Linked DNA regions of Homo sapiens: all the other regions are linked to region 2. The links come from fine-mapping of genetic effects on gene expression. A gene starts in region 2. Each other region holds a variant in brackets. All regions are shown on one strand. Distances are between the middles of the regions. Region 1 holds the start of LOC105375079 (a long non-coding RNA gene). Region 2 holds the start of ENPP4 (ectonucleotide pyrophosphatase/phosphodiesterase 4). Region 3 holds the start of ENPP5 (ectonucleotide pyrophosphatase/phosphodiesterase family member 5).

The links.
Region 1: its variant is fine-mapped to the expression of ENPP4 in tibial artery (GTEx, PIP above 0.99).
Region 3: its variant is fine-mapped to the expression of ENPP4 in whole blood (GTEx, PIP above 0.99). The same link has a PIP of 0.9 or more in esophagus mucosa.

Annotation. Positions count from the first base shown.
Region 1 is chr6:46,212,959-46,223,574 of GRCh38, reverse strand. It overlaps RCAN2 (regulator of calcineurin 2), which reads left to right. Exons shown (of 5, transcript NM_001251974.2): 5 at 274-2,839. The coding sequence ends at 434. LOC105375079 (a long non-coding RNA gene) reads right to left here and starts at 4,270. Exons shown (of 5, transcript XR_001743802.3): 1 at 4,225-4,270. The variant C/T (reference allele first, on the strand shown) is at 5,769.
Region 2 is chr6:46,125,337-46,135,952 of GRCh38, reverse strand. It overlaps ENPP4 (ectonucleotide pyrophosphatase/phosphodiesterase 4), which reads right to left and starts at 5,964. Exons shown (of 4, transcript NM_014936.5): 1 at 5,764-5,964. It also overlaps a transcript of CLIC5 not described here.
Region 3 is chr6:46,170,968-46,181,583 of GRCh38, reverse strand. It overlaps ENPP5 (ectonucleotide pyrophosphatase/phosphodiesterase family member 5), which reads left to right and starts at 10,604. Exons shown (of 5, transcript NM_001290072.2): 1 at 10,604-10,616. RefSeq lists a silencer at 10,373-10,432. The variant C/T (reference allele first, on the strand shown) is at 4,596.

The sequences.
Region 1 (10,616 bases), 88 kb before region 2:
AAGTATTACCATGTTGAAATTTACGGTAAAGGATGTGGAGGCTAAGAGGTATTGAGTGGCTTGTTTGGGGTTGCACAGTTGATAAGTGGCAGAGCCAGGATAGGAGGAAATTGATCTCTTTCCACTTGCCAACACCCTGTGCCATCCCTGCATAAGATCACAGGCTTCCTGAGACCCTGGAAAATGCTCCTGTCATTTCCTAAGCAGACCCTGCTCCAGGATCTCTTTTGAAATCCCCCCCTCTTTCTCACTTCCATTTTTCTTGCTTTTCAGGAGAGAAGTATGAGCTCCATGCAGGGACTGAGTCCACCCCAAGTGTCGTCGTGCACGTGTGCGACAGTGACATAGAGGAAGAAGAGGACCCAAAGACTTCCCCAAAGCCAAAAATCATCCAAACTCGGCGTCCTGGCCTGCCACCCTCCGTGTCCAACTGAGCTGCCTGCTCCTTCTCGATAATAGCCGTCTCCTCTTTATCATGCTTTTTCCCCCTGTTGTTTGTCAAAAAAAATTGCCTTTAAATTCCTGGGTGTTTGGTTGTTTGAGATTCCTTCCTTGTTATCAAGCCTCTCGGACAAAAGGGCTAGGAAAAGGTGATATGTCTCCTGATCATATCATACCCATTAAGTATAACCCATTATTTAGAAGGTTCTAGGGAAAAAAGTAGTATTTTCTTATTAAACAATCAGCACAGCCTATATCTTTGTTCTCTCATGTTGATCCAAGCCAGAGACATCAGTAACAAATAGCACCTGTGTTGTTTGTGAGCTGTTTCAGTCCCAGTCCTGATGTGTGTGCGTTGTTCTCTCCTGGCCACTTAAATAGGACCATATGTAAACTTGACTTTGACTGCATGAGATATCCCTATCTGGTCTCACTCAGTCCTCTGCATCCCAACATTCCCAGGACATGCATGATCACCAGCATTTATTTTCATTATTTGAGGATATCTTATAACTCACAGATTGTCAGCATCCAGCCATGTCCTATCTAGATTAGGAAAATGATCAGAATATTCCAGCTCAACAAGTCTGGGTATATTCACTATTGTGAGTCAATACACCATAGCTCTGTTGAAATTCCTGGAGGCAAAATTGACCTTGGCCCCAAAGATATTCCTCAATAGATTTCAAACACCACTCCCCTGTAGAACTCTCCCAGCCTCGTTGGGGAGGCTTGTCCAGGGTGATAGAGACTGATTTCAGACAAACCTATTTATTACAAAAGTTTCATGGTGTCTGAATGATTGTTTTCTCTCTTTGTATATTTGTACAAATGTTTCAGCTGTGCTTTTAAAAAATCTGGATGTTTTTTATTTAGTGATTGTTCGACAATTAGCTGCTTCAAAACATAATGTGCATTGCTTATGAATGCCTTCATATACTAATACAGATACTCTGATAATATTACACTCTAATAAGGATAATGCTGAATTTTGAAAGGACACAAAACATCTAATGCCAATATATACATGATTAGCCAACATCTTTGCTATCAAGACCACTTGTTTTTAAATAAAGATGCAAGTGTCAGTTGTAGATTATTGGGATGAAGCTAAATCCCCAGAATGCAGCAGCAGCTGAGCATGTTAAAATGGGGAAGGATGATAGCTACATGTATGCCGGTCCTACTCACGCGACACCCGTGTGCTCAAAAAAGTTATTTGTTTTTGTTACGTGTGATTTTTCTATTTCTCTAGCCCAAAGTGCATTACAGAAGATACACCTATAGAACCATTACCTTCTGCTATGTGTGCCAGGCCTCATCTACTCCTGTACATTAATGAATTACTTTAGATGCAAACGCAGATTACAATGGAGTGGGGAAGTACTTTCATTACCCAAGCCTCAGAAAAACACACAAGAACAATAACACAGCAAACAGATTGAGGGATTGTTGTGGTTTTTGACTAAGGTGTATGTTAGTTTCATCAGAAACTTAAAACATAGACTGATCACTCAGAAATTAAAGTCCGTTTTACTGTGAATATAGCAATATAGTACTGGACACAGTACTGGTGAAACTGAGGAGAGCATTGCTTGTAAAATCCTGAGTTTCCATAAGGAAAATGAAAACTCCTTTTAAAAATAAAATCTGAGGAGTGTACAATAAGCATATGCTTTGACTTTCCTTTGCTGTGGAGGTTTTTGGTTTTTCATTGATGATAAACGACTACAGACTTAGTAGTGGAGAAATGGTGTCCTCTAGTGGAAGAAATAGTAGGCTCCGCTATTCAGATGCAGAGCACTGCAGCATCCAGCCTTTCAAAGCTGACTCTTCTCAATCATCTGTGGGTCATTTGACTTGATTTTTTAAGCTACCCTGAATTTCCAGAATGCAGGTTCTAAAGAAATCTAGATGAGAGAAAGTATTTGAAAATGATTTTTAAATGTTTTTTAAAAGACACATCTGACATTTTTAACAACTTAGTAAAAGTTGAAATGACCATTCTGTGTAGTCATAAAAGAAACACAATGAAGTGTATGGCCTCTGGAGTTAGTCTTAGTAAAACTTATTGCTCTGTGTCAATGTTAACCTGTCTCAGATCAAGTAATTCTTTCACTAGGTTGGGTTTGGGGAGGGGGGAAAAGAGGGGCTTTTCCTAGGAGAACGATAAGAAATGGAAAGACTCCTTGAAGTGTTGCAAGGGAACCTCCTAGCACTGTGAAAGTCAGAATCGCCTCAGCATTTCCATGACGCACATTATGCAAATCTCTTTAGCACTATTTTAAGTTTGAAAACTTTAACAATGAAGGGGAAGGGGAAGATTTCCACCAACTGAATCATTTGTGCACGTGTATAGCTCAAAGAGCTTAGACTTCAAATATATCTGGTGAATGACTCTTTGTCCATGTGGTTTAATTTCTGTGTTGTCGACCTGAGTTGAATATTCTTGAGGGGTAATTGTGGGGGACTGCATTTCAACCTAGAGTTTTTCTAAGAAGTCCCCAACGTATGGGGTTAACCCATATACCTAGGCTCTTCCTGAAAGTGGGGGAAGCTGGTTGGCAGCCCTCTCTTGGGGGAAGGGGAATTTGAGCAGGGCCTGGAGGGCAGGGTTGGCCTCTGATAAGAGGAACTGGGAGAGCTCCCTGTTTTATTGCCATGTTTCAACATCTTGGTCCTAAAAGCCATTTCAAGTGTACTAAAAACCTCTTTTAATGTCTTCCCACTCTATTCTCTTGTTAAAAGCACTATAAGAGACCTGAGTTAGCAAAAAAATTATTATTCAGGAGAAAAGCACTATCATAATCTAAATGATTAATACATTAAATGCCATTAAAATGAAGAGCTTCTGTTCATCAGATGGGTATTAGGAGAATGAAAAGGGACAGCATCAGACTGGAAAAGGATATTTGAGACACATGTAGTTGTAAAATAAATTATATCCAAAATGTAAAAAGAAAACCCTACAAATAAGGAAAACAGACAATCCATTTCTTTGATCATCAAAAAATTTCAAAGGCACTTCATACAGGCAATTCACATACACACAGACATACACAAAATACCCAGATGACCCATTAGCATTCAAAAGATGCTCAATTTTATTGCTTATCTGACAAAAGCAAATGATAATCTCAGAGCTACTACACAGATCTATCAGAATGACTAAAATTAAGTCTGGAGAAATAAAAAGTTCTGGTAAGGATATGAAGGAAGGGGAACTGTCATGCACCACTGGTGGAGTGTCAACTGGTGCTCACTTCACAGCACTGTTTGGTAATATCTGCTAAAGCTAACATGCCTCTGGGAGCAATTCACTCCAGGGCATGCACCTAGCAGATACAAGTGCACACATCTATCAAAATACTTGTACAATAATGTCCCTAGCAAAGTTGTTCATCATAGCCATTAACTGGATACAGCCCAAATGTCCTTCAACTATAGAATAAACTGTGCTATCCTCACACAAAGGAATGTCACAAAGCAATAAGACACATAAACTAGTGGTACATATATGAACATGAATAGATCGCAAAATCATATTTTGAGCAAAAAAGAAAAACTAGACATGAAAAAAATACATAGTATATGACTCCTTTTAGCAAGCTAAGAAAGTCAAAACTGGCCTATATAAATAGAAATAATAGTGGCTATTATGAAAACACTTAGGACTGTAAGGTCCCCCAACACCACCCCCAAACTAAAAAAAGTGCTAAGAGTCCAAAGAAGGACTCAGACCTAAGTCCAGCATGAGGAGTAGATGAGTTTATTAGGACTTACATACGGGGCACTCTGGGATGGCGGCAGGATAGCTCTGGAGATCTGCCCCACCTCCCATCCATAAACTGCTTTTAAGCTAATTTCCTGGCTCTTTGCCTACGTGTTTGAACAATGAGACTGTTTTTCTTGGTAGTTCCTCAGAAACTCTCTGGGAGGTTTGGCTTCTCAGGGACACCTGCTCCTCAGCTCGGCACCAGGGTCTTGGCTCACTGTCCGGCCCTCAGAGTTCAGGCAACAGACTTATACCCTTCGGTAACCTGTTGGGGGACCTGTCACAGTACAGTGGCTACCTTTTGAATGGTACTGCCTGAGAGGAACCCTCTCATGTGGAAGCCTTCCAATGTGCCATCAATATTCTACATCTCGATCCTGATCTCCATATGGATGTATACCCATGTAAAATTCAGTTAAAATGTGTGCCATATACTACAGTAAGTTATACCTCAACTAAAACAAAAGCTGTTCTCCCTGAGGACAGAGAAGAAGGAGCCATTAGTTGTGATGGGGGTTTAGAATGTCCTCATACTAAAAACGTACGTCTCCCATCTCATGTCTGTGAGATATTTCCATATTTTCAAAGCCTTCATTTAAAAATCTATAAATAAGTGTTCCTTTTTAAATGAGAGAGCACAGGACTTAGGCTCTGGGTGAAACACTGTTCATTCAAGTAACAAACTGTGTGCCTGACACTGGGTTTTCAGTGGTGAACAAGGTAGCTTTTGTCCCTGCCATTTCAGGGAGTGGAGTCTAGCATGGAAAAGAGATAAGAAATAAACAAGCAAATAATGGCCACAAATTCTCATAGGTAAGTACAGTGAAGAAAACCAAAAGTACTCTATGAGAATAGAGAATAAAAGTGGAGGATCATAGTCAGGGAAGGCCTCTCTAAAGAGGTAACATTTAAGCCGACCTGGAGGCACTGGCCATGGAAATGCTGCGAGAAAAGCATTCCAGGCAGCAGGGCTGAAGGCTGTGACTCTGGAAAGGCCTTGTCTTGTCGTGTTGGAGGAGCCTGAAGGATTTTGTTGGTATGGCTGAGGCACAGGGAGTGAGGGTGAGCACAGTTTAGGATGAGGTTGGAAGGCAGGTGGCGGAGGAAGGCAGGCTCAGTAGAACCTATTATTAATAGGCCAGGCTAGGGGGTTTGAGTTCATTTTAAGGGTTTCAAAAAGGGAATTATATGACCCAATTCATTGGTAAATCCTAACACAAACAAGAAGTTTCCTAATACAAAGCTACAGCCCAAAATGTCCAGATCCTCTGTAGCACTGGGGCTTGACGGGTCTTGCCCACATTAGGCTTGAAGATAGCTTTTGATAGCCTCGTGCTCCTCACTGCAATCCTATCTATTAACACCAGAAGAATTCTCAATATCCAACATCAATATGCAGTGTCTTGTGGTTCTAAAGTTTTTTTTTACTTCCCCTCCCCACGTCATTTAGAAAGCCTCAATGCAGAAAAAGGGGAACAGAGCAGGTGATAAAGGATGATAAGTCAGTCAGTGATTCAGGGAAACATTCATTTAGCTGCTGGTACAGAGTGTC[C/T]CTGCCAGAAGCCACCACGCTGAGCGTCATTGAACATTTGGCAGCCTTTCCCCTTAAATTTATGCAATCTGAGAAAGGGAAAATTTCAAGCAAAAAGTTTTCTGTCAAGCTCATTCATCTGCACCTTTCAAAGAAAGTCTGGGCAAATGTTTTTGGAGTTGATTCATGAGCTTTTTATGTCTCTAAAAGGAAGCCATATTTAAGGTTAGTCGTGTGTATGTGTACGCAAGCACATTTGGTACAGGTTGGAAATAGGAAATCCAAAATAGGCAGAAATGGATGAAACACTTTGTGCTAAAAAATTCATCCACAATACCTCCTTGGTGCTTTTGTGTTATTTTCCATTCTCAACCAATAATTGAGTTAGAAAACTTTTAGGGTTGGACAGGACTATGGGGCCTCCTTGACTAGTTGCTATCATTAGGAAAATCATTACTGTTCCCCAAACAATCTTTGGATTTGCCAGTAGGGTATTTTATTCTTAAAACAAGATTTATAGTTTCCGTACAAAGCTGCCAAGTTCAACACCTTGATAATCCATCTGATGTGCTGTTGTGGATGCTGTAGTCCCAGTTCCCCACTTCAGAGTCCCAGCTCCCCACTTCAGAGTCCCAGCTCCCCACTTCAGAGTGGAAACACTCATGCCCCCAGATGTTAGGAAGGTTGGTGGGTCATGACTCGCTGCTGAGTGGCCAGGCATTGCACTCAGCTGGAGAGATGCTCCCCACCCAAGGTCTCACCCTCCTCAGGGACAGCCTGCATCCAGTGACTAGTCAAGGAAGGCCTTCCCTTGGGCCACTCCAGCTCCAGAGCTATCCCTGTGGGATAGGCTGAGGCCCGGTATTTCAGTTCAACTCTGCCTTTATCCCCAACAGGTAAGGACTCTAAAGTCTCCCTAGTAAACCTCCTGCATGTACATCTCCCTCTCAGAGTCTAAGTCCTAGAAAAACTAACCTGACACTTACATCATCCTCAATAGCTTCTTCCATCACTTTGAGCGCCCCGGAATTGTACAACTCTTTTCCATCAATCGCTGCTGTTTCATTCTTAAGATGGATTGGTTATGCTAGGGGTTAGCATATTTTCCAAAAGCAGTGCAGCAAAGTTCTTCATGCTTTCTTTGTGCTGTCCTGCTGAGTTCAGGTCAGGGGTAGGTAGGGTAGACGTGCAGGTGACTTGGCACAAAGTTCCTCAGTGGAGAAAGGAGGGCTTCTCTCAACCATCCCTGTGGAGTGAGGAGGACAATGGATGCCTGTTCAGCTGTTGTCAGGAGCCTTCATGAAAAACACGGGTCTATAACAGGGAGGGTAGAACCCAAATTCTGGCCCATGTGCCACCCTCAGGCCACCTCAAAAGATGTCACCACCTCCCTGTCAACCTTGTATATGAGAAAGGGATGAAGATTGTGCAAGCGACTTTAGACAAGTTACTATAGTCCCTACAACTCAGTTTCCTCTCCTGTAAAATGGGCATAAAAATCCACTTTTGTCATGAGGACTTAATAAGATAATAACAGTAACAATTATTATTGGAGGGCCGGTTAATAACTACATTCACAAGTTTTGCTGCCACAAGACCTAGGTTTAAACCCCAGCTCTGCTGCTTGGTAAACTTGTGGTCTTGGACAGTTTTTTTAAACCTAAGTTTTGGTTTCCACATTTATCAAAAGTAAAGGATGATAGTATCTGTCTCAGAGAGTTAGGAGGGATTGAATGAGAAAGAGTATCAAGTGCTGGGTACATAGGAAGTCCTCACCCAGAGCTCTTTATGCATCAGGCCCCACACAGAGCACCTGGCATTTGTACCCTCAGTCTTCATGATGGCACCTTCACTGTTTCCATTCTTCAGAAAGAATAGTCAGCATTTTTTGAGTGCTTACACCGTGTCAAGAGCTCTTAAAAGTTCTTTACATTCTTTTTTTTTTTTTTTTTTTTGAGACGGACTTTTGTTCTTGTTGCCCAGGCTGGAGTGCAATGGTGTGATCTCAGCTCACCGCAACCTCCGCCTCCCAGGTTCAAGAGATTTTCCTGCCTCAGCCTCCCCAAGTAGCTGGGATTACAGGCATGTGCCACCATGCCCAGCTAATTTTATATTTTTTAGAAGAAATGGGGTTTCACCATGTTGGTCAGGCTGCTCTTGAACTCCCAACTTCAGGTGATCCGCCCTCCTCGGCCTCCGGAACTGCTGCGATTACAGGCTTGAGCCACTGCACCTGGCCAAGTTCTTTACATTCTTATTTAATTCTCTCTATGCTCTTATGATGAAGGCACTGATACCCACATTTTACATGTAAGGCAACTAAAGCCCAGAAAAGCTAAGTCCTTGGTACTCAAAGCATGTTCTACGCACTGCAGCATCTGCATCTGCATCCCGGGAGTATCTGCATCCCCCGTGGAGCTGGTTAGAGACGCAGAGTCTCAAGCGCCACCCCTGGCCTACTGAAACAGAATCTGCCTTTTAACAAGATCCTCCCTTGATTCCCAGTACTTTAAAGTTTAAGAAGCACTCAAGATCAACCGCCTAATATATCCCCAGCAGGGCTATGATTGCAGAGCACATACTTTTAACTGCCTCTGTGTATGAAATGCCCATCAAAAAAAAGTGCTCAAAGCATATAATTTTCCTTCCCCCAGCAATTCATTTGACTGAGCTTCCTCCTCTGTTCCTGTCCACAGTCCATTCTTACCCACTGTGCTGGCCTTGCTGTTTTCGATAGAATCTCCAGGTATTGCTGCTATGCTCCAGGTTCTGATAAACTTCCGCCCAGGGTCATTCCAAATATCTCTATTAAAAGTGCTTCTGAATAAGCTACAATGTGATTTCCAGAAAGGCAATTATTCCAGGAGTACACCAGTGTTCTGAGAATAGCCACTCCTAGCTTTACTGGGAGTAACAGGATGGTCTCAGACAGGCATTAGTGCCAGAAGCTGCCATGTGGATAATCTTTCCCTGAGAATGAAGGCAATCAGGAGAAAAGAAGAGCTGAAATGCTGAAAGAGAAGAAGAGGGATGGGAAGTGAGTTTAATGTTATTATTTGAGTGCCTAGACCAAACTATACCTGATACTCATATCCCCTGGACTTTTCAGATGCCTGAAGCAACAGATTTTCCTCTTCCTCAAACAAGCTTAAGTGGGGTTTCTTCACTCTCCACTGAGTGGCTGACTGAAAAATAAAGAAAACATAATATTTCTGTGGGATCGGTGGTGATATCCCCTTTATCATTTTTTATTGTGTCTATTTGATTCTTCTCTCTTTTTTTCTTTATTAGTCTTGCTAGCGGTCTATCAATTTTGTTGATCCTTTCAAAAAACCAGCTCCTGGATTCATGAATTTTTTGAAGCATTTTTTTGTGTCTCTATTTCCTTCAGATCTGCTCTGATTTTAGTTATTTCTTGCCTTCTGCTAGCTTTTGAATGTGTTTGCTCTTGCTTTTCTAGTTCTTTTAATTGTGATGTTAGGGTGTCAATTTTGGATCTTTCCTGCTTTCTCTTGTGGGCATTTAGTGGTATAAATTTCCCTCTACACACTGCTTTGAATGCGTCCCAGAGATTCTGGTATGTTGTGTCTTTGTTCTCGTTGGTTTCAAAGAACATCTTTATTTCTGCCTTCATTTCGTTATGTACCCAGTAGTCATTCAGGAGCAGGTTGTTCAGTTTCCATGTAGTTGAGCGGTTTTGAGTGAGATTCTTAATCCTGAGTTCTAGTTTGATTGCACTGTGGTCTGAGAGATAGTTTGTTATAATTTCTGTTCTTTTACATTTGCTGAGGAGAGCTTTACTTCCAACTATGTGGTCAATTTTGGAATAGGTGTGGTGTGGTGCTGAAAAAAATGTATATTCTGTTGATTTGGGGTGGAGAGTTCTGTAGATGTCTATTAGGTCTGCTTGGTGCAGAGCTGAGTTCAATTCCTGGGTATCCTTGTTGACTTTCTGTCTCGTTGATCTGTCTAATGTTGACAGTGGGGTGTTAAAGTCTCCCATTATTAATGTGTGGGAGTCTAAGTCTCTTTGTAGGTCACTCAGGACTTGCTTTATGAATCTGGGTGCTCCTGTATTGGGTGCATATATATTTAGGATAGTTAGCTCTTCTTGGTGAATTGATCCCTTTACCATTATGTAATGGCCTACAAAGCTGGAGGCATCACACTACCTGACTTCAAACTATACTACAAGGCTACAGTAACCAAAACAGCATGGTACTGGTACCAAAACAGAGATATACATCAATGGAACAGAACAGAGCCCTCAGAAATAATGCCGCATATCTACAACTGTCTGATCTTTGACAAACCTGAGAAAAACAAGCAATGGGGAAAGGTTTCCCTATTTCATAAATGGTGCTGGGAAAACTGGCTAGCCATATGTAGAAAGCTGAAACTGGATCCCTTCCTTACACCTTATACAAAAATCAATTCAAGATGGATTAAAGACTTAAACGTTAGACCTAAAACCATAAAAACTCTAGAAGAAAACCTAGGCATCACCATTCAGGACATAGGCATGGGCAAGGACTTCATGTCCAAAACACCAAAAGCAATGGCAACAAAAGCCAAAATTGACAAATGGGATCTAATTAAACTAAAGAGCTTCTGCACAGCAAAAGAAACTACCATCAGAGTGAACAGGCAACCTACAAAATGGGAGAAAATTTTCGCAACCTACTCATCTGACAAAGGGCTAATATCCAGAATCTACAATGAACTCAAACAAATTTACAAGAATAAAACAAACAACCCCATCAAAAAGTGGGCGAAGGACATGAACAGACACTTCTCAAAAGAAGACATTTATGCAACCAAAAAACACATGAAAAAATGCTCACCATCACTGGCCATCAGAGAAATGCA
Region 2 (10,616 bases):
TAGATTTACCTCTAAGAGCAGAGGGGTGCCAAGACAATTCAACAAATGGTAGAGGGACAACTGGATATCCACATGCAAAAGAAATTGAAGCCCTGCCTCATACCATACACAAAAACTCATTCAAAGTAGATCACAGACCTAGATTAATAGCTAAAACTGTAAAACTCTTAAAAGAAAATGTAGGAGTAAATGTGGGAGTACATTTTTGTAACCCTGGGTTCAACAGAGCCTTCTTAGATACCACACCAAGAGCACAAGTGACCAAAAAAGAGAAATAAACTGGACTTCAAAATTAAAAAGTCTCGTGCCTCAAAGGATACCATCAAGAAAGTGAAAAGACAACCCAGAGAATGGAAGAAAATATTTGCAAATCATATATCTGAAGAGATTTGTATCTAGACTATATAAAGAATTGCTACAACTCAATAATAAAAGTCAGATAATCCAGTCAAAAAATGAGCATGAGCTGAAAAAGATATTTCTCCAAAGAAGACACAAATGACAAATTAGCACATGAAAAGATGCTCAACAGCATTAGTCATCAGAGAAATGCAATCAAACCCACAATAAGGTACCATTTCACACCCCGAAGGATGAGTAAATAAAATAGATAACAACAAGTGTTGATAGAGAAATTGAAACCTTTATAAACTGCTACTGGAAATGTGAAATGGTACAGCCACTTTGGAAAATATTCTGGCAGTCTTCAAAGGGTTAAACATAGGGCTACCATATAACCCAGCAATTCTACTATTAGGTATGTGCTCAAGAGAAATGAAAACATATGTCCACACAAAAACTTGTACACAAATGTTCACAGCAGCATTATTTGTAAGAATCAAGTGGAAACATCTCAATGTGCACTAACTTATGAATGGATAAATAAAATGTAATATATCCATATAATGAAATATTATTTGACACAAAAAGGAAGGAAGTGCTAACACATTTTATAACCTGGATAAATACGCTAAATGTAAGAACGCAGTCACAAAAAATCACTTATTATATGATTCCATTTAGATAAAATGTCTAGAACAGGCAAATCTATAGAGACTAAAAGTAACTATAGTAACTATCTAGGGCCAGGGGTTGGGGGGGAAATGGGTAATAAATGCCAGTAAGTATAAAGTTTATTTTTGGGGTTATGAAAATGTTTTCAAATTGATTGTGATGACAGTTGCACAGCTCCATAAAGCAGTACTCTTAAAATGAGTGAATTGAATGGTGTGTGATTTATATCTCAATAAAATATTATTTTTTAAAAAAGAGCAGAGGGAAGTGAAATTGTAATCTGAAATGTCCTGCCACAAAACAGGAAACATTTTTGATCTCATTTTACCTCAAAAAAGTGAATTTTATACTCCAAAATACACACTTGAGTGTTTTAATGTGAAAGTTTTATACCACTTCCCATGTGCAAAACAGACCAAAAACCTGTGTCCGTCCTCTCCCACAAAACACAAATCAAAATGCTTCTTCCTCAAATCTTGAGTTAAAAGGATGCTCCAGGAACACATGCTGTTAATCCTGTGGCTCAGTAATCCCTCAGCACACTGCTGGGATCCAAGCGTCCCAGTCCTTGTTCTCAGGATAAGTAGTACAGACAAAGTGGAAAGACTATAGACTGAAGTCAGAAGGGTCCCAGAACCTGAACTCACAATTAGTAGATGGGTGATCTTGGGTAGATCCAACTTTTCTTGGCTTCTGTTTCCTTGTGTGTAAAATGAGGATGTGTAAAGGTTACAGAATAGGCCCTCAAAATTAGTTTCCCTTTATCATTCTAGTTACAAAGATGTTGGGAAAAAAAACAAGACTGTACTATGATAGGCAGAATATTATTGTGAAACTATAAAATACATTAGGAATAATTTAGTCTCATCTCTTCGCATATGATGACCTTGCATATGACTTTGCTTATGATGAAGCTAAAGTCCAGTGATTAGCCGGGCTCAGAAAGCAATCAGTTGCTTCACTGTGTTCTTACTAATTTCATGTCCTCAATAAGTTTACAAGTCCAGTAATAGCAAGTTAACAAGTCTGATAATAATCTCCAAACTATTAACAGAACTCTTCCTGATAGAACACCTTTTATTAGCAGTGCCGGATCCATGTCTGCCACATTCTGTCTCATTCTAATAGGGAGTGTTAAGCTACAGACAAACCAACAATGAGAAGTTCTCAAGCAGTTTCCAAGGAATGAAAATAAAGTTTGCAGGGAATGAAACTGTTACAGTATAAAACATTGAGAGAAATTCTGTAATTTTTCACACCAAAAAGATGTCAAAGAGAAGAAAAAAAGCAGACCTCTCTGGACTGCAACCAAATATCCCTACAACAAATGGAAGTATGAGTTAGTCTTCAATTCAGGGGACAAACTACCTTCTAATTTCTCTGGGAAGACGTTCTTCCCTGGATGGAATGCAGTCAACTCTCACTGGCATTCCTAGCCCATGTGAAGCCAAGAGAGTATAAACCATTACAGGATATGGTGAAAGATATTTGTCACTATTAGCACGCCATCTGCTCTGTAATACAATGAAACTCTCATACACCTTTAAAAACTTTATTCTATGACTATAAATAAGGCAGTTATCTTTAGATTATTATCAGTTGCTTTCTTATAGTCTAAGGAAAAAAATATACTCCTTAAAAATTCCTTAGTCTTAAAAATCGTAGGATTCTAAATTATTCTCCAATTTTGTAAAATACACAGAAATTTCTAGCATACACAAAGTTTTCTAGCAGCTTCAAAACACTTACACTTATCTTACTTTCTACATAGTAAAATACCTCCCTCCATTACTCCTTGTCCTTTCATCAAAATTTCTTCCAAATTAAGTCAAATTGTCCCTGTTTGCAGACGACATGATTGTATATCTAGAAAACCCCATTGTCTCAGCCCAGAATCTCCTTAAGCTGATAAGCAACTTCAGCAAAGTCTCAGGATACAAAATCAATGTGCAAAAATCACAAGCATTCTTATACATCAACAACAGACAAACAGCCAAATCATGAGTGAACTCCCATTCACAATTGCTTCAAAGAGAATAAAATACCTAGGAATCCAACTTACAAGGGATGTGAAGGACCTCTTCAAGGAGAACTACAAACCACTGCTCAAGGAAATAAAAGAGGATACAAACAAATGGAAGAACATTCCATGCTCATGGGTAGGAAGAATCAATATCGTGAAAATGGCCATAATGCCCAAGGTATTTATAGATTCAATGCCATCCCCATCAAGCTACCAATGACTTTCTTCACAGAATTGGAAAAAACTACTTTAAAGTTCATATGGAACCAAAAAAGAGCCCGCATCGCCAAGTCAATCCTTAGCCAAAAGAACAAAGCTGGAGGCATCACACTACCTGACTTCAAACGATACTACAAGTCCACAGTAACCAAAACAGCATGGTACTGGTACCAAAACAGAGATATAGATCAATGGAACAGAACAGAGCCCTCAGAAATAACGCCGCATATCTACAACTATCTAATCTTTGATAAACCTGAGAAAAACAAGCAATGGGGAAAGTATTCCCTATTTCATAAATGGTGCTGGGAAAACTGGCTAGCCATATGTAGAAAGCTGAAACTGGATCCCTTCCTTACACCTTATACAACAATCAATTCAAGATGGATTAAAGACTTAAACGTTAGACCTAAAACCATAAAAACCCTAGAAGAAAACCTAGGCATTACCATTCAGGACATAGGCATGGGCAAGGACTTCATGTCTAAAACACCAAAAGCAACGGCAACAAAAGCCAAAATTGACAAATGGGATCTAATTAAACTAAAGAGCTTCTGCACAGCAAAAGAAACTACCATCAGAGTGAACAGGCAACCTACAAAATGGGAGAAAATTTTCACAATCTACTCATCTGAAAAAGGGCTAATATCCAGAATCTACAATGAATTCAAACAAATTTACAAGAAAAAAACAACCCCATCAAAAAGTGGGCGAAGGACATGAACAGACACTTCTCAAAAGAAGACATTTATGCAGCCAAAAAACACATGAAAAAATGCTCACCATCACTGGCCATCAGAGAAGTGCAAATCAAAACCACAATGAGATATCATCTCACACCAGTTAGAATGGCAATCATTAAAAAGTCAGGACACAACAGGTGCTGGAGAGGATGTGGAGAAATAGGAACACTTTTACACTGTTGGTGGGACTGTAAACTAGTTCAACCATTGTGGAAGTCAGTGTGGCGATTCCTCAGGGATCTAGAACTAGAAATACCATTTGACCCAGCCATCCCATTACTGGGTATATACCCAAAGGACTATAAATCATGCTGCTATAAAGACACATGCACACATATGTTCATTGCAGCATTATTCACAATAGCAAAGACTTGGAACCAAGCCAAATGTCCAACAATGATAGACTGGATTAAGAAAATGTGGCACATATACACCATGGAATACTATGCAGCCATAAAAAATGATGAGTTCATGTCCTTTGTAGGGACATGGATGAAATTGGAAATCCATTCTCAGTAAACTATCGCAAGAACAAAAAACCAAACACTGCATATTCTCACTCATAGGTGGGAATTGAACAATGAGAACACATGGACACAGGAAGGGGAACATCACACTCTGGGGACTGTTGTGGGGTGGGGGGAAGGGGGAGGGATGGCATTGGGAGATATACCTAATGCTAGATGATGGGTTAGTGGGTGCAGCGCACCAGCATGGCACATATATACATATGTAACTAACCTGCACATTGTGCACATGTACCCTAAAACTTAAGGTATAATAATAATAATTAATAAATAAATAAATCTAAGACCTGAGACCATAAAAAAAAATGTCTTCCAAATTATATCCTGTAACTAATTTAAGTGGAGGTGGGGGGAAGACGCACAAGTGCAGCAGGCCTCTTAATTTCCTTAAAACAGATTGAAACAATCTCTGAGGGGAAAAAAGAAGAAATAGAAGCTCATAATACTGAAACCAGCAGTTGATATTTCACAGTAGTTGGCAAATCTTCCTTCAGACTTGGGTCCACAAGATTGCCTGATTAAGCAAAGCCCTTCTGGAGTCAGATCTGGTGTAAACCTGAATCTGCCTGTCACTAGTTGTACAATCTTGGTTGGACGCGTCCCTTCACTTCTCTGAGCCTGACTTTCGTCATCTGTAAAATGGGAATGCTATGATCTCATAGGGTGGTTGTGACAAGAAAAGGAAGCATTGTTTTTAAGTCCTTACGTGCTTTTAATCCAGCCCTTTAAAAAGGCACTTAAATGTACCTTTTATTGTTTGGTTGGCTTGTTTTCCAGGAAATTAGTTCTTAAATATCATTATCTATAATTAACATAAACTCTAATCTAATATTCAGACAGACGGATGTCGATGCCATGGGTGGTTCTCCTTTAAAACCAAAAGCCTGGCGACCCCGCCCCAGCTCCCCTCAATTTTACCCCAGACCCACCTTAGGTTCCTCCACTACCGTTCGGCTGACTTCCCTCCCTTCACACTTAACACCACAGGTTGCCTTCCCCAGCACCTGCTAATTTTTCTTTCCTCTTCCCTTCCTGGCCTCCGCCTCGGCCCGCCACCTCCCTGGCTCTTTGAGTCCCTTCGTGGACGTCCCCGCCGCGCCCCAGGGGATGTGCGTGTAGTGGGGGAGAGTGGGTCATAGGGTCTGGTCTCACCATCTCTATTTTCAAAGCCCCTAGGGGACTGGAGAGGGGGTGACATTGCCCCCCAGAACGCCGAGCGCGCGAGGCGCGTACTCACCAGCCGCCGCGGTCGCTTCTTTCCAATGCGCGGAACTCGGCGCTCGCGGCACCTGGCACTCGTGGGAAGTTGCGGGGAAGGGGGACCTGGAGGAAGAGGGGCGATGCCGAGCTCTTCCTGAGGCGCCTGCGCAGTGGCAGGCGCCGCGCCGCGGGGCACAGCCCCAACGTCCCTATCTGCGCCGCTCGGGGCGCTCCGAGTGTGCGCAGCTGCCAGGCGAGCGTCTAAGGCGCCAGCTCAGGGCTGGCTGGGACCGGGCAGCAGAGTCTGAAACACGTCCTTGGATTGGATGCTAGAACCAGCGTTGAATGTAACTTTCTTTCCGATTGGTTAGACAGGTGCTTGGAGGGGTTGTATCGGACCTAAGAGTAGAGGTTGATTCCACTCTCCCACCACGCACTTTTCGTATCATCCTAGATCTGGATGCCCTTCATGGAACCTAAAAACCAGCGAGTCCCGGAAAGGCCTCAGGCAATTGCCAAGCCGATGGCCTTCTGCCACTTAGTTAATGTGCACCTGGCAGCTTAGGTGGCCGCGGAGAAAGCAACTTTGGCTGCACCAAGGTCCGGCACAAGTCTGGAGAAGCTTCAGCCAGTTCCAGTGAGTTGGGATAAATGAAACGTGGATCTACCATAGACGTCTGTCCGTCTTACTGGATAAGCGAGCACCTTTACCGGGGAAGTTAGGTAATAGTTTACAAGTAAGGTTAAAAGCAGCACAGTGCCTGCGGCAGGGAACCAGTAATGAGTTACAGCTGAGAAATGGGTGCTTACTTTGACAGACGCGTATGTGGGATTGTGCTCCTGCTTTTAATTGGAAGGTTATTTAATAGAATAATGTAACTAAACTTTCCAACATAAAGAGCAGTTACCAAACAGAAGTAGAATTATTCGCTAACAGTTGGGTTGTCCAGGCACACTTGGCAGTGAGAGGATAGCATCTTTTTTCTTTTTATCTGTAGTGCCAAACAGAACTTGGTATAGAAGTACTTGCTAAATCACTATTGAATTTAATTGTCCCGCTTGTTAAAATGCAGGCTCCAGAAGGTATTTTCTTTCTTGTTCACTACTGTATCTCCAGCTCAAATAAAAAGTACAAATAAATTAAGAATATTAATCACATGTGATATCCTCAAGTGTTAAGTATTTAATAGCTGTAAATCCAGTACCTGGATTAGTAAACTGCAGTACTGGACCTTAGATAACAAATTCTGACGTTGGTCCCCTTGGTCTGAACCTTACAGTATAGCTATTACCAACAATCTGGAAGCAGCCATGGAGATGATTTGGCAATAGATGTATTCCGTTGATTATTAGTTTGTGCCTTGATAAATTAATTCCAGTTTTAAGTCTCAGGTTGGCCTGTGCATTGGTGAATATGGGCATCTTAGATCCATGGGCTTTCAGAGCTGGAGGGGATGGTAGTGGGTCTGTAGCTGAATCCCTAGAACCTGCAGACCCTAGAACCTGGTTTGAATACTCACTCTGTCACTCACCAGCAGAGCAATCATGGGCCAGTGTCTCAACCTATTTGAGCTTTCATTTCCTCATCTGCAAAACGCGTCTTGTTACAATACCAACCTCTTACTATCAAATGAATGAGGAAAGCGAGTAGAGTATTCAGCACAGTATCTGACACATGTTGTTTTGGGGATTATTATCATTATGACCAAAAAAGTACCCCAATTTGAACAATAGTCAGGGTAAGGCCAAGTTTTGGGGGAATTTAGGTAATGTCCAATGACATAACATTTAAGATTAGCAGAACTTAAATTTTGTGGCATTTGGGGGTATTGTGCATATCCTGTTTGTTCATTCAGTAGGTGCATATGTATGCTTAAAGGGTGGACAAAACTGAATGCCATCTAGGTCAGATGTGTGGTGAAGATAGCAGCTGGATGGGCATCAGGAGAGGACTCTCTTTATCCACTGCTACTGCCTGTGTGGCTGGGTTAAATTAGGGAGTCTCATGCCACCTGGGCTCTTGCTCTGTAAGATAAAGTGGTCAGGAACAGAGGGACAAAATGACACATAAGGACCTTTGGCCCTAAACTTTTGTTATCCTCTATATATTTACCATTTCAACCACAACCAAAATCCTGTTATAGTAAGGATATTTATCGTCTTGTGGAACAAGAAGTCCAGAGGTAAGGCAGACTTCAGGACTGGTTGAGTTAGCAACTCAACGATTTCATAATGTACTCAGTTCTTTGCAGCTTTACACTTGGCTTTTAACAGAGTAGACTTCTGGTTCCTTTAGTGGTAAATATAACTACCAGCAGCAACAGGAACCATGTAATTCATTTTTCACTTCCACTGGGTGATAGAAATGACGTCTAGATTTCTTCTGTCTCTTAGAAGTCTTCAGCAACTGTCTCCTTTAATCACTTTGGACAGAATTGTGTCACATATCCAAATCTAAGCCAGCAAAGGATATGGTTACCTGTAGACCAATGCAGTCCACATCTTAAACTGAGGTCTCACCCAAACTTTACTTTTTTTCTCAATGGAAATGAGTTGGAATGGGTGCTGGGAAGCCGGCCACAAAGTTCACTATAGTTTCATTGTAGAACTTTAATGATAATAAAAGAAAACATAATAGTAACATAAATTTCTTATTTACAATGTGATTTTTAGGCATAAGTGTTGTTTTATTTAGGTAGGCAAAATAATATTCATTTATAATGTTCTTTCAGCTCAGCTTTTGCAAAGGGAATTTTATATAAATTTTGGAAATATAGAGAGCCTTTAAACCCATTTTATGTTAGAGATTGAAATGAATTAGAGGCAATAGTCTAAACTTATTATTTACAAATGAATATACCCCACAGAGAAATGACTGAGCAAACATACAGTTAGATAGAAGAAATATATTCTAATGTTTGATAGGAGAGTAGGGTGACTATAGTTAAATGTATTTTATATTTCAAAATAGCTAGAAGACAGGACTTGAAATGTTCCCATCACATAGAAATGATAAATACTCGAGGTAATGGATACCCTAAATACCCTGACTGGATTGTTACACGTTCAATGCATGTAACAAAATATCACATCTGCCCTATAAATGTATAGAAATATTATTTATCAATACACAAAAACTAAGTACAACTAGAGCATTTGCCTCTATGGGGCAATGTCAGATTTGGAAGCAGCATGTCAAAGGCAGTTTCTTTTTCTCCCATGAACTACGCTCAAGACTGAACATTTATTCATTAACACAAAATATTTTAAAAATCTTATCCTGTTTTCAAAATTTAAGACATAGCTCTCTATACAATTATTTCTCTTTTATACTCCTAATTGTGATGTATAACTCATTGCTGGCCAGGAGAAGGTCAGAAGTTAGAAGTTACAGGAAGAAGGTTTCAGAGCAAAAGCCACACGCTTCCCAAAGAAAAACAATTCCTGTCCACTGCTCAGTTCTAATTAAACAACAACACAACTGAAACTAAATAATTGAATGTCAAGGAGAGTATTTAAGGTTCACTTTTTAATATAAATTAGATGTTTAAGTAATACAGATTTTATCTTAAATATAACAGGGGAAAAGGACCTTATGAATCATTGCATTTTAGTGATTTTGAAAGTTCCTTTGGTGAAAACTTTTCACCTACTCCATTTTCAGTAAGATTATATTGGAATAATCTCAATCAAGTTAAGATTGTAAAATATTTTTAAGTGCTCCTTTAAAAAATGATTCTGTATTAACCACCATGAACTATTGTGTTAGACCTTCACTCTAAAGGAATTTTTTCAAATATTTAATAAAGCTGTGAAAGAATCAGTATAAATTCTTTTGAGGCTTTCCTATGTGGAGAGCAATGTGCTCAATTTTTCAAAAGATACAAAAATAAGTAAGATTAATTCCTTGCCCTCAAGGTGCCTCTAATCTAAGAAAATGAATGGAGAGGACATTACTCTCTTGCTTTTGCCTGCCCAGCATTCATTCCTCCTCCTTCTGGCAATTCCTCCAAGAGACAAACCCACCTTCATTCTTTGACTATGGGAGTCAGATGGGGCTGACTGTTAATTCCCCTCATCCACGGGGCAGACTCCTAAGGTGCCAGCTATCTTGGTTTGTCCCAAATGGAAGAGGTTCCTGGGACATGGGATTTTTAATCCTAAAATCAGAAAAGCAACAAGCAAATCGGGGTGAGTTGGTCACCCTAAGCCTGACTCAAACTTGGCCTTTTGGAGCCAATTTTACTCCATTAACCACATGAATTAGTTCAGTGATGGGGACATGCCTCAGTCCAGGCCATAAAGACTCAATTCTGAAACTTTTGTTGAAATAATTGGGAAAGAGTCCCTGTTTCAGCAACAATTGCTAAATAGGTAGAGTATAAGCTTACCTATTTGGCAATTGTTGATAATCTACCTATTTAGCAATCACTGAAGCTGCTGGTGGCCATCATTGTCACTGTAAAGGGAAAGTCTACCTGAGAAGAAAGCAAAGCCAAGAGCTGGAGTCCAACACGTGATGACATTGAGCACGTGGGTCCAAGTTAACCTGAAGCTCCATCCTTGGACTTTTCACTTTACATGACTCAGTAAATTATCTTTTTGCTTAAACTATTTTTTTAACTTTTTAAAAATATATATATATATTTTAATTATACTTTAAGTTCTAAGGTACATGTGCACAACGTGCAAGTTTGTTACATATGTATACATGTGCCATGTTGGTGTGCTACACCCATTAACTCGTCATTTACATTATGTATATCTCCTAATGCTATCCCTCCCCTCTCCTCCCACCCCACAACAGGCCCTGGTGTGTGATGTTCCCCTTCCTGGGTCCAAGTGTTCTCATTGTTCAATTCCCACCTATGAGTGAGAACATGCGGTGTT
Region 3 (10,616 bases), 46 kb before region 2:
ACCAAAGCAATTTAAAAGCAAATAAAATACCTTTTAAAAATTGTACTGGAACAATTGGCTATTAAAAAATTTTTTCTTTAACTTAGACTCCTATTTGCACTTACACTCTATTTCACACCACACACAAGAACTAATTTTAAATGGCGGAAAGATCTGTGGATAGGAGTTTGAGAATCTTGAAAGATAGTCTATAGCAATAAGCATCTGCCCAAGATAGTCTATAGGAATAAGCATCTGCCTTCAGGCATTAGACCCTCACTTATCCTTAACTGGATCAGGATAACTTAGCTTAGGCTAGGACCTGGCCTTCAGCCCTTCCCCACTACTTATTAAAACATTTAAAGAGAAATCTAAATTAAAAATCCAAAATAATAATGCAATTTAAAACTACCTCAAAAAATCCAAAAATCTTTAAGATATACCATTTGAAACAAAAGTGTTAAAAGAGATAGAACAAGAATTTTATGTAAACATGATAAATATACTTAAAGAGATGTAACAAGCTATTAGTAATATGAAGAAGAATAAAAAATCATTAAAAATGAAAATATATGAGGTATAATAGCTGAAAAACTACACCAAAGGTGGGATAAAGAAAGGATAGAAACAGCTAAAGAATAAATTTGTGAATTAGAAAATCAGACAAAGAGGCAATCTCTCGGCAATCAGAAGAATAAAGAGATAGAAGATATACAAGTAAGCATATTCCTCTCTGTTCCCATTATGTAGTATCAACCCTCTCCCCTCAAGAAAAGCAGGTTACTTACCCCAACATTACTATAACTCCCTTCTGATCCACTGGCATGAGGAGTCCAAGATGGCCAGGTGGTAGACCCAGCTTCAAATTCAGTAGAATCCTCACTTTGCTGGTGGAGACATAGCCCTTACTGGGAACGATGTTCTCTAACCTAACAGAGCCTAAGGTTAGAAGACAGGAAGAACAAATTTCACAAATAGGTCACTGGGGATGATCATGTAGGGATCACTTCTATTTCCTTGGTTACCAGACCTGTTTTCTAACCATTAAGGATAGAGCATCATGTATCAGTCCTTATTTCAATGCATATACCCCAAAATTGAGGATCATGCTCTAACCTTCAGAATGTGTTCTCGGAGAGGGCCACTTAGCTGAGCCTTTAAGCCCATTGCATCATTCAGCTAGGCCAGCTGCTTCTGGGTGATGGGATATATGGTGGAACCAGTGAATCCTGTAATCATTGTTGTATGTCCTTTGCAGCAAAATTGGTCCCCTATTTGAGGAAATGTTGTGAGATCCCATATTGATAGATCAGGCATGCTGAAGTGTTGAATCATACTTGGTGTAGATGTAACCTCTGGTAAGGACAAATTGCTGCTGTTTTCCTCAATTGAGGGGTTAGCATCAGTCTCTGAGGCTGACATTCAGCACTGGCTAGATAAGCCCTTTGTGAACTGAATCCCATTCTGTTAGGTGTTTGCATACTTCTATTCCTGCCACCGTTGAATGCCAAATTGCACTGGTACTGCAATAACCAGGAAGAAATGTTGGCTGACATCCACAGGTTTACTCATCCTGTCCACCTGATGGTTGAGATCCCCTTCTGCAAAAGAGGCTTGCTGGGCATCACCACAAGACAGACAGATCTGCATGCTTGGTGCCCACCAACTATAGGGCCCACATATCTCTTTCCCCTGCCTCCTTGTCCTCACTCTTCCCATTCTGGTCCTTCCAGGCCCTGAACAAACTAGCCAAATCATTCGCCACTACCTATTGCTACCTAAGGTCACTTTTCCTTCCATACAAAGTGGACAATCAAGTGTGCTGCTCGAAGCTCTGCCCAAAGCTCTATATAGAGATTTTATACAAGTGATAAAGAAGATTATGGGAGGTAGCCTAAAACCCCTCCCAAGACAGTCCTGTGACCACCACTGTTCCTCTCTAAACTAATACTATTTCTTCAAAGCATTCATTAGTAGTGGAATCTCCTAAAAGAAAAAAGCCCATAGCAGCTTAGAGGGAAATGAAAATAGGGTGAACTGGGAAGGCAGAATGTTATTGAGCATTCAGACATTGGAGGGATAACTCTTCCCCAAACAAAAATGAGACCTTCAAAAAGCATCAATTTAGTGTTTGATTTAATACAATTTTCTTCCATTTGTAATGATTTCATGTGCATTTGTGTCATCTCTTTAAGCAGTGTTTCCATCCCTTTGGAGTCAGGAAGTATATCTTACTCCTCCCTGTATCCACCTTTCTCAGTTCCCATCACAGGGCTAGGATCACAGCAGCTACTCACCTTAGTATTAAATAGTTTGGAATTGACTGATCCTCACTTAGGCAGTCCAGGGCTCTCTCTCTCAATTCTGTCATGATCATGCTGCCTTGACTATTGATGCCCATGCTTCCTCCTATAAACCACCCTTCAAGGTTTTCAAATCCCTACTCATGAGTCTGTCTACCTTTTATTTCAATACTGAGCAGCCATCCTCAACCAAGGTCATTTTAATACCAAGGTCCATGTCCATCACAGGGGTGCCCATCTCTGGATGGCAACTCCAGTCTTGTTTGCTTGTCTCTCTCACACCATTTCTGTTTACTGACTGTTGAAGGAAGAGGCTGCGAGAGCTCCCTATCCCCACATGGCCTGATAATAGAAATGAGTTATTCCACTGGCTGTCAAAATACTAAATCTTCCCTTCATGGATCCAAAACTGGGCTTAGACACTCCTCTACTGTGCTCTCCACTGTTCAGATTCTACCATTGAGGACCTCCTGGAGAATCTGGAATCCCCAACTCTGACATGAAGTCCACAGACTACTTGTCAGTAACCCCCAGGGCATGGTTTCTATGGACCTAAGTTTGTGTCAGTCCGAAGATCAACTTTGTCCCCAGAATGTCTCTCTCGTGTTCCCCTCTGGGTCTTACTGAGATTAATGAGCAGTCCAGTTCTGCTATTTACTAGTTGAGTGATCTTCAGTGAGTTAATCTCTCTGGGATTTTCTTTCCTGAGCTGGCATAGGAAAAGACTCATTTGTATTTCACAGGGTTATGATAAGAACTAAGTGACATAAGGAGTATGTGTTGCTTTGCACAGTGTCTGCTATTTGGTTGCCACTAATTAATAAGCATTGTTATTATAATTCTAGTAATATTGTTATGTACTCCTTTCATACTATAATACCTTCACCACCCATACAGACCATTTTTCTGGCTTTAAAATTGTTTCTCTGCCACCCATCTCTTTTCTACTCTTCCTACTCCTACATACAGTTGTTTAGTGGAGTTGATTTGTTATCATTTTTTTCAATGAAATTATACTACACACTCTGGCAAGTTTTGAAATGCCCCTCCAACATTTTCCCTTGTCTTGCACACCATCCCCTTCACTATTCACTTTGTGATTAACAAAATATTACAAAAAAAGTATAGTATATGACAATGATGTCACCTCTCAAAATGACCAGAAAGTATACATTCATTCACACTAACATGTCTATTTTTTCTGACTCACAGGGCTGTGTTTTAATGACAGATTCATATCCCAAAATTGGGGTAACACCAAAAACACAACCTAATAAGCTATGCCACACAGTGCATTAGGAACAGGCTAATAGATGTTGCCAAGAAGAAACAAGAAGAGAAATGCTCACTGCCTCTCAATATGCAGTAAACAAAAAGCCAAAGTGCTTTACATTTTTCAGTAGAAAGGTCATAAGAATGGGTTAGCCTTGGTATGGTATGACAACTGGTAGTTCCTGCCAAAGGAGATAGTCAAAGAAGCAACGTTAATTTTAATATCAATTACAGATTGATATTAAATAAATGTCAAGGTGCTAAACTACTGTGCCACCTCGCACCACTTGTGATTCAGGAATTATGTTCGTGGCTCTGGTCATGACATGCCCCTCCTCAAGAACCTTCAACTGCCCCCCACTGCCCACAGGACTGACCCCAAATTCCTAAACCAGTTTTTCTAGGCCCTTCACAAGCACACCTGGGCCCTCTGACCAGGTGCATGTTCTTACAGTCTTCTCTGTTTCACGTGCTTCGTTGAAATCCCACCATCTTCCAAGGCTCTGCTTCAATACCAGACTCTCCATTCCTACCTCTGTGGTGGAATACCCATGTCTTCTTCAGTCAGAGCTAATTTCTCTGTCCCATGCACTTCTATATCACTTTTGTTTGTTCCTCTGTTGTAGAACTTACTCTATTTTTCCCTGATTTCAAATGTTTAGATATGCAGCTTTGGTTAAGCCACCAATTCTCACTGAGCATAGTGTGCGGCCATGAGAAATGAACTCAGTAATGCTGTTGACCATCTTCAAAATGGATTTCAAAAACCAGCAGCACAATATGAGTGTAAAATAGAATCATGACTCAATGATTACCCTGTGAATAAATGAACATTTCAGTGATTCCACAGATGATCATTCTCAGTTACATCACTTGGTTGAAACAGGCCAATGAGGCCTTAAAATGCCAGTTAACCCTGAATTGTATAATTCAAATCGATAAATTTATATTAAATGAATCACATTTCATTTTATGTTAAGCAAATCACGAATAAACCTGTTTTGTTTTTTTAAAAAATAACAGGTTAAAATCCCAGCTACT[C/T]GGGAGGCTGAGGCAGGAGAATCGCTTGAACCTGGGAGGCAGAGGTTGCAGTGAGCTGAGATCTCGCTACTGCAGTCCAGCCTGGGCAACAGAGGGAGACTCCATCTCAAAAATAAAATAAAATAAAATAACGGGTTAAATCAGCCTGTTATTTTAAAACAGCCCCATCACCATGACTAGAACAGCTAACTCTGGCCAAAGAACCCCAACATGTAGTATGTCCTAGCAAGAATAGATGAGTAGATCAGCATAAATCCATTCACACTGAATGGATTTTCCTACAAAATAGGGTTCTCATTAGAAAGCAGAGAAGTATATAGGTCAGGAGATTGCCCAAGCAAGGTGTGGGAGGATGGAGTCCTTTGTGGAATCAGACAACAGGTGTGGAGGAGTAAGGATGAAAGTGACTAGAAGAATAGCAAAGCTCTCAAGGATTTTATACATTACATGCATTTTCTAGATGAAAGGCTATTCAAAATTTTACAAAGGTCAAATCAGAGCACCTTCATAAGCCAGGTTCCTCTGTTGCCTATGACTTCGGACTTCCCTACAGTGATCTGCTGCTTAATGATGGGCAAAGAACAGGACTAGCTTTGAGCAAATTATGAGGGATGCCAGCTTAGAGTCTGCTCCCCTTCCTTTTTCTGTTTTCACTTTCCTCTAGAGCTGCCCCCTGTATTTACTAACCTTTGAAAGACAGAACCCACCTGCATTCTTCTAAGGGCTTTTCTCCCCAACCAATTATGCAAATTGGAGCGAATCAGACAACCTTAGTCACACACGTGTATATAAATAGCTAATAGAGGTGGTGCATATGACATCTCTCCTGAGAGAAAAGCCTTAAGGCTAAGAGATTAATTTCCAATTATGAAATTGCAACCATCCAGGAATTGGGCAGGGAGAACTCTCCCATGACATCCCCCGCCCCTTCCCTGCCAAGAACACCTTAAAGGCATAAAGCACTTGCTGCCTGCTTGGCCTGTTCATAAAGATTCACACTTACCAAAGAATTCCTTGGTGCAACCTCAAGCTACAAAATTGTTGCAAAGAATATTTACATTTACATTTTAAGTGCAAATACCTAGAGTGGAAAAATGTATTTTTGATCTGGATAGAGGACAATATTTTTAGGTCCTCCCCCACTGCTAGTAAATTTACAGAATTACAATACCCATAAGGAGCCAATAAGTTTTTAAATAGTGATGTTAAACTAAGTATGTTCAGGCATCTAAGGGGTGTTATGTGCTTTACAAAGAACTGAGAATGTGGTTTTAACAAAATGTTTTCACCCCATATACCACAAACACATGTGCAGTTTCGTATTTGGCTCCTGAGAATATGTCTTACAAAATAGGCCTCAAACCAACACCAAAAGATGACTATCTCTCCTGCTATATGACTGCATCCTGCACTGAGTTAGTTATTCAACAAATGACATTCAGTTATGGCCTAGAAAATATTTGTAGTAGAGACGGGGTTTTACCATGTTGGCCAGGCTGGTCTCGAACTCCTGACTTTGTGATTCGCAAAATATAAAAATTTAGCCTGGTGTGGTGGCGCGTGTCCGTAATCCCAGCTACTCGGGAGGTTGAGGCAGGAGAATTGCTTGAATCTGGGAGGCAGAGGTTGCAGTGAGCCAAGATCACACCACGGCACTCCAGCCTGGGCGACAGAGCAAGACTCTATCCCAAAAAAAAAAAAAAAGAAAAGAAAAAGAAAAAGAAAGAAAGAAAGAAAAGAAAAAGAAAATAATTGTTTAGCCTTGTTTTGGTTTTACTTCATAGTTTCCTGACTTCATTCATGAGGGAAAAGGAATGACACCCAGCAGAGCAGGCCCCGTGGAGCTCCTGCACTTGCAAGCACTCACACCCTGCAGGAAGAACTGGTATACACCCGTACACACAGGAAAGGCCACTGAGAGTCAAACACCACCAGCACCAATTTGTGAACTTTGGTGAGGTGTGAGGTATTATCGCAGGGTAGGGTTTATTTATTGTTGCTGCTGTTTACTGAGGTATAATTTCCACACAGTAAAATTAAACATTTTTAGGCACATAGTTCTCTGAATATTGACAAACTTAGTGATGTGACTACAAAAGCAATCAAAATTCTATCACATAAAAAAATTCTTTGTGCCCCTTTCTAGCCAATCCCCTCCCCTCACCCCTAGTCCTTGGCAAATGCTGATTTGGTTTCTATTTCCATTGTTGCCCTTTCTAGAATATCATATAAACAGAATCACACAGTGTATGGCCATTTGTGTCTGGCTTCGTTCACCTAGAAAAACGCTTTTGAGATTCATCCATGTTGTTGCATGCATGAGTTCTGTATTCCTTCTTACTGCCAAACAGTACTGCATTTACGGACACACTACAATTTGTTTATTCACTAGTTGAGGGACATTTGGATGGTTTCTAGCTTTACATGATTATGAATAAAGCTGCTGTAAAAAGTTGTTGACCGGTTTTTCAGTGGACGTCTGTCTTCATTTCTCTTAGATAAATACTCAGGAGTGAGATTCCTGGGTTGTATGTCACGTGTATATTTAACTTTATAAGAAACTTCAAAACTGACTTCCATAGTGGAAGTCCATTCCCACCAGCAGTGTATGATAGTCCAGCAATATATTATAGCTCTGAATCCTTGTCAGTATCAGATGTTGTCAGTTACCTTGATTTGAGCCATTTTATTAGTAATCCATCAACTTTTGATCTAGGCTGGGCCATAAAATTAAACTTTCTGCTAGCTATATATACTGGGTTGAATAAGTGTCCTTCCGAAATACACATTCACCCGGAACCTCAGAATGTGACCTTATTTGGAAGTAGGATCTTTGCATATGTAATTAAATTTAGATGAAGCCATACTGGGCTGAAGAGGGCCTTAATCCCAATGACTGGTGTTCTTATAAGAAGGCCACGTGACACAGGGACACACAGAGTAGAGCATCCTGTGACAGGAGAGGCAGAGATTGGAGCTAGGCTGCAGCAAGCCAAGGAATACCAGAATCCCCAGCAGCTGTTAGGGCCAAGCAAGGATTCTTCTCAGAGTCTCGGAGAGAGCATGGCCCTGAATACATCTTGATTTCAGACTTCTGACCTCCAGAACTATGTGAGAATACATTTCTGTTTGTCGTAAGTCACCCAGTTTGTGATAATTTGTTAAGGCAGTCCTAGAACTAAAACACTATGAATACAATTTACAGAATACAACAATACAAATAGGTTTATATTTGACTTATATAAAGCTTTCTGAGGATAAAAGCATAATAATTGCTTCTACAAAATTCATTCTAATTAGTTCAAGCATATCACTAGAAGCCTAATTTATTAATATGCATAAAAATTCTTGGGCTAAGTTTTTGACTATTCTATAATTCAACATTTCACTCATTGGACTGAACTTCTGCTAATGAGTCAAGATTAGTGAAGACCACTGTTTATCATGAATTAAGAGCAGTGCAGAAGCAGAATCCCAGTGGTTCCTATCTATGGCCATTGAATATGTGAGACCCACATTTTGCAGAATGTTCTACAAAGGATTAAAAGATGAACTTTCTTTTAGTTTAGTCATTTGTGGTATAATGTACTGGAATGCACCTTTAAAATTTTTTAATTGTAAAATTATGTGTTTATTTTTCCTATCATGAAGTCTAGTTCTGAAAAACAAGACTTCTGTGGTAGAGCCAGTTCTGGTTGTTTCTTAAAGAACAGATCCCTTTTCAGTTTTAGCACAAAGCTCTTCCAGCCCCTGACGAAGAAAATTGTCCCTCTCTCAACCTGTATTAGACTTCCTTGGGGAGGCAGAGGGATCTCCCTCCCCACCTGACCCCAAAACCTTTGAAAGAAAGAAGTTGGTTATTCTGTTACACTATTATTCAATTAGAATTCCACTAATTTAATAACAGAGAATAAAAGAATAGTTACAGTCAATAGCAGGTTGTGGTTTCTGCTGCTAAAACTTTCTGAAAACCTATTGCAAATAGACAGATACTGAGGCAACAATAAGACAGGAGGGCAGGTGCAGATGTGGGAGCAGGAATCTCATGTTTTACATTCATTCCTCTATACTATGTAAACCAGACTTTCTCCCCATGAACAACATAAGGTAATAGCAAGCCTATCAGGTGAACATTAGATATCATTATATGGACTTCTGGGAGGAATCTGGCAGTCTTATGAGCACTTTTCTGTGTTGTGCACTGTGGTTACCAGCTGTACCATGCCTATTTCACAGGAATAGCTGGTGAATATAATCATAACTTCCATAAAATTTGCAGAGCAAAGCAGGTTGTCATCCAAACAGAGTCCAACAATGTTCAGTGATCCGAACAAAAGTCAGGCCCATTTTCACCACTCCTGCTCTCTGATAAGCGTACATTGTCCTTTGAGTGTTTTGGGAGAGCACAGAGTTGACCTATTCTGGGGGACAAGGACTTACAAGATTGGACCACTCTGTTCCAAGTTTGGGCAATTTCAAAGGACAGGGCTTTGGGGAATTGGAACAACTTGTTCAACTTCATTGTGTTTGGGTCTCACTAAACATAGAAACCAGCCTCCCTCTTAATCCCCATCCCACGTGTTGAAAACCATAAACTCAAGTTACCACGAATAAAAGGCCATGGAAGAGTGCCCAGATGCCCTTCGGGATGGGATGACCCAGTTAGGAGGTAACAATGTTTGGGGTTGAGATTGTCCCTCTATTAGAAGCAGACAGAGAAAAAGCTATGACCAAAATGTTTGCATGGCTTAATTAAATATCAACAGATATCTCTATTCACTTTAAAGCTCCAGCACACCAGACAAGGGATCCGAGCTCCGGGCAGGAGCCAAAACCACCATTGCAGATATGCTCCCAGTTTTACCAGCTAATTAGATGTTAAACTTACATTGTAACAATCAACCTGATATTATTGCCTACTGCAGATAGAACTAGAATTCTAATTAGGTCAGAATTCTAGCTGGGATTGTGTAGATGGACAAATTCTTTCAGGGTAGTTTGATATCACTGCTATAATTTATGGTAAAGACAGTTGGGATCATACTGGCAAACTAAGTACCTGCCTACACTCCCTCAGGCCTAAAAATGCCATTGATTATCCCAAAAAAACTGAGAAAATAATCCACTACAGTACGGAAAAAGACAAAATAGGGGCACTAACACACAAGAAGCACTGAAGGCTTTCTGAAAGAGTAATCAGGCCTGATGTTTGTAGTTTTAATGTTTACTTTGCAAACAAAGGTAGAAACAGAGTCTGGAGCTCGGATGCCACCACCAGAGAGGGTGGCTGTTCAGCCTCTCTCCTGTGCAAATTAACCTAATTCTGAACCTGTCTTGGTTTAATTCGCACAATTTCAGGTGCCATGCTAGGTACACCACAAATATACCTCAGGGACCTCAATTGCAAAAACCTGGACTGCAAACGTTGGGGCTGCAGAGTTGACTAGGTTAATAAATTCTTTCTGAGGTAAAGCAGATAACACCCACTAATAAAAAGAATGAAACTTCATCGTCCCATTGGCATCCTCGGGTGTGCAGGTGTTCCTCAGAGCAAAGCCCATGGTGTGCCCCATCGCCAATTCGTGACAAGGCAGGGGGCGGGGGGCGGGGGAAGGAAAAAAGCCTGGGATAAGAAATCAGAGAATACAAGTCGCTTTTAAACAAAAAACAGTGACTGTTAGAGTACACCCACCATTGGGGTAACACGCAATAATCTCTCAGCATCACTGACTCCAGCACAGCTGGTCCCCTGGAAAAGGCACGTTGCCGGAAGGTTTTGTGTGTGACCAAGCAATTGGCCATCCCACGCCTTCGCCCTACCAGATGGGTCCCTGCCCCCGGGAGTCCCCTCCCCCTCCACCCTCCAAACCCAGGCAGCGCCCGCCCCTGCCCCCGCTGATTGACAGGCCGTGCAGCTACTCCTGGGAGCCTGGCTTTCGGGGGCAACCCAGGCAGAAGTGACTATCTCTGCAGCAGCCAATAGAAGCCAGGAGGCGGGGCGGGGAAGCGGCGCGGTCAGGT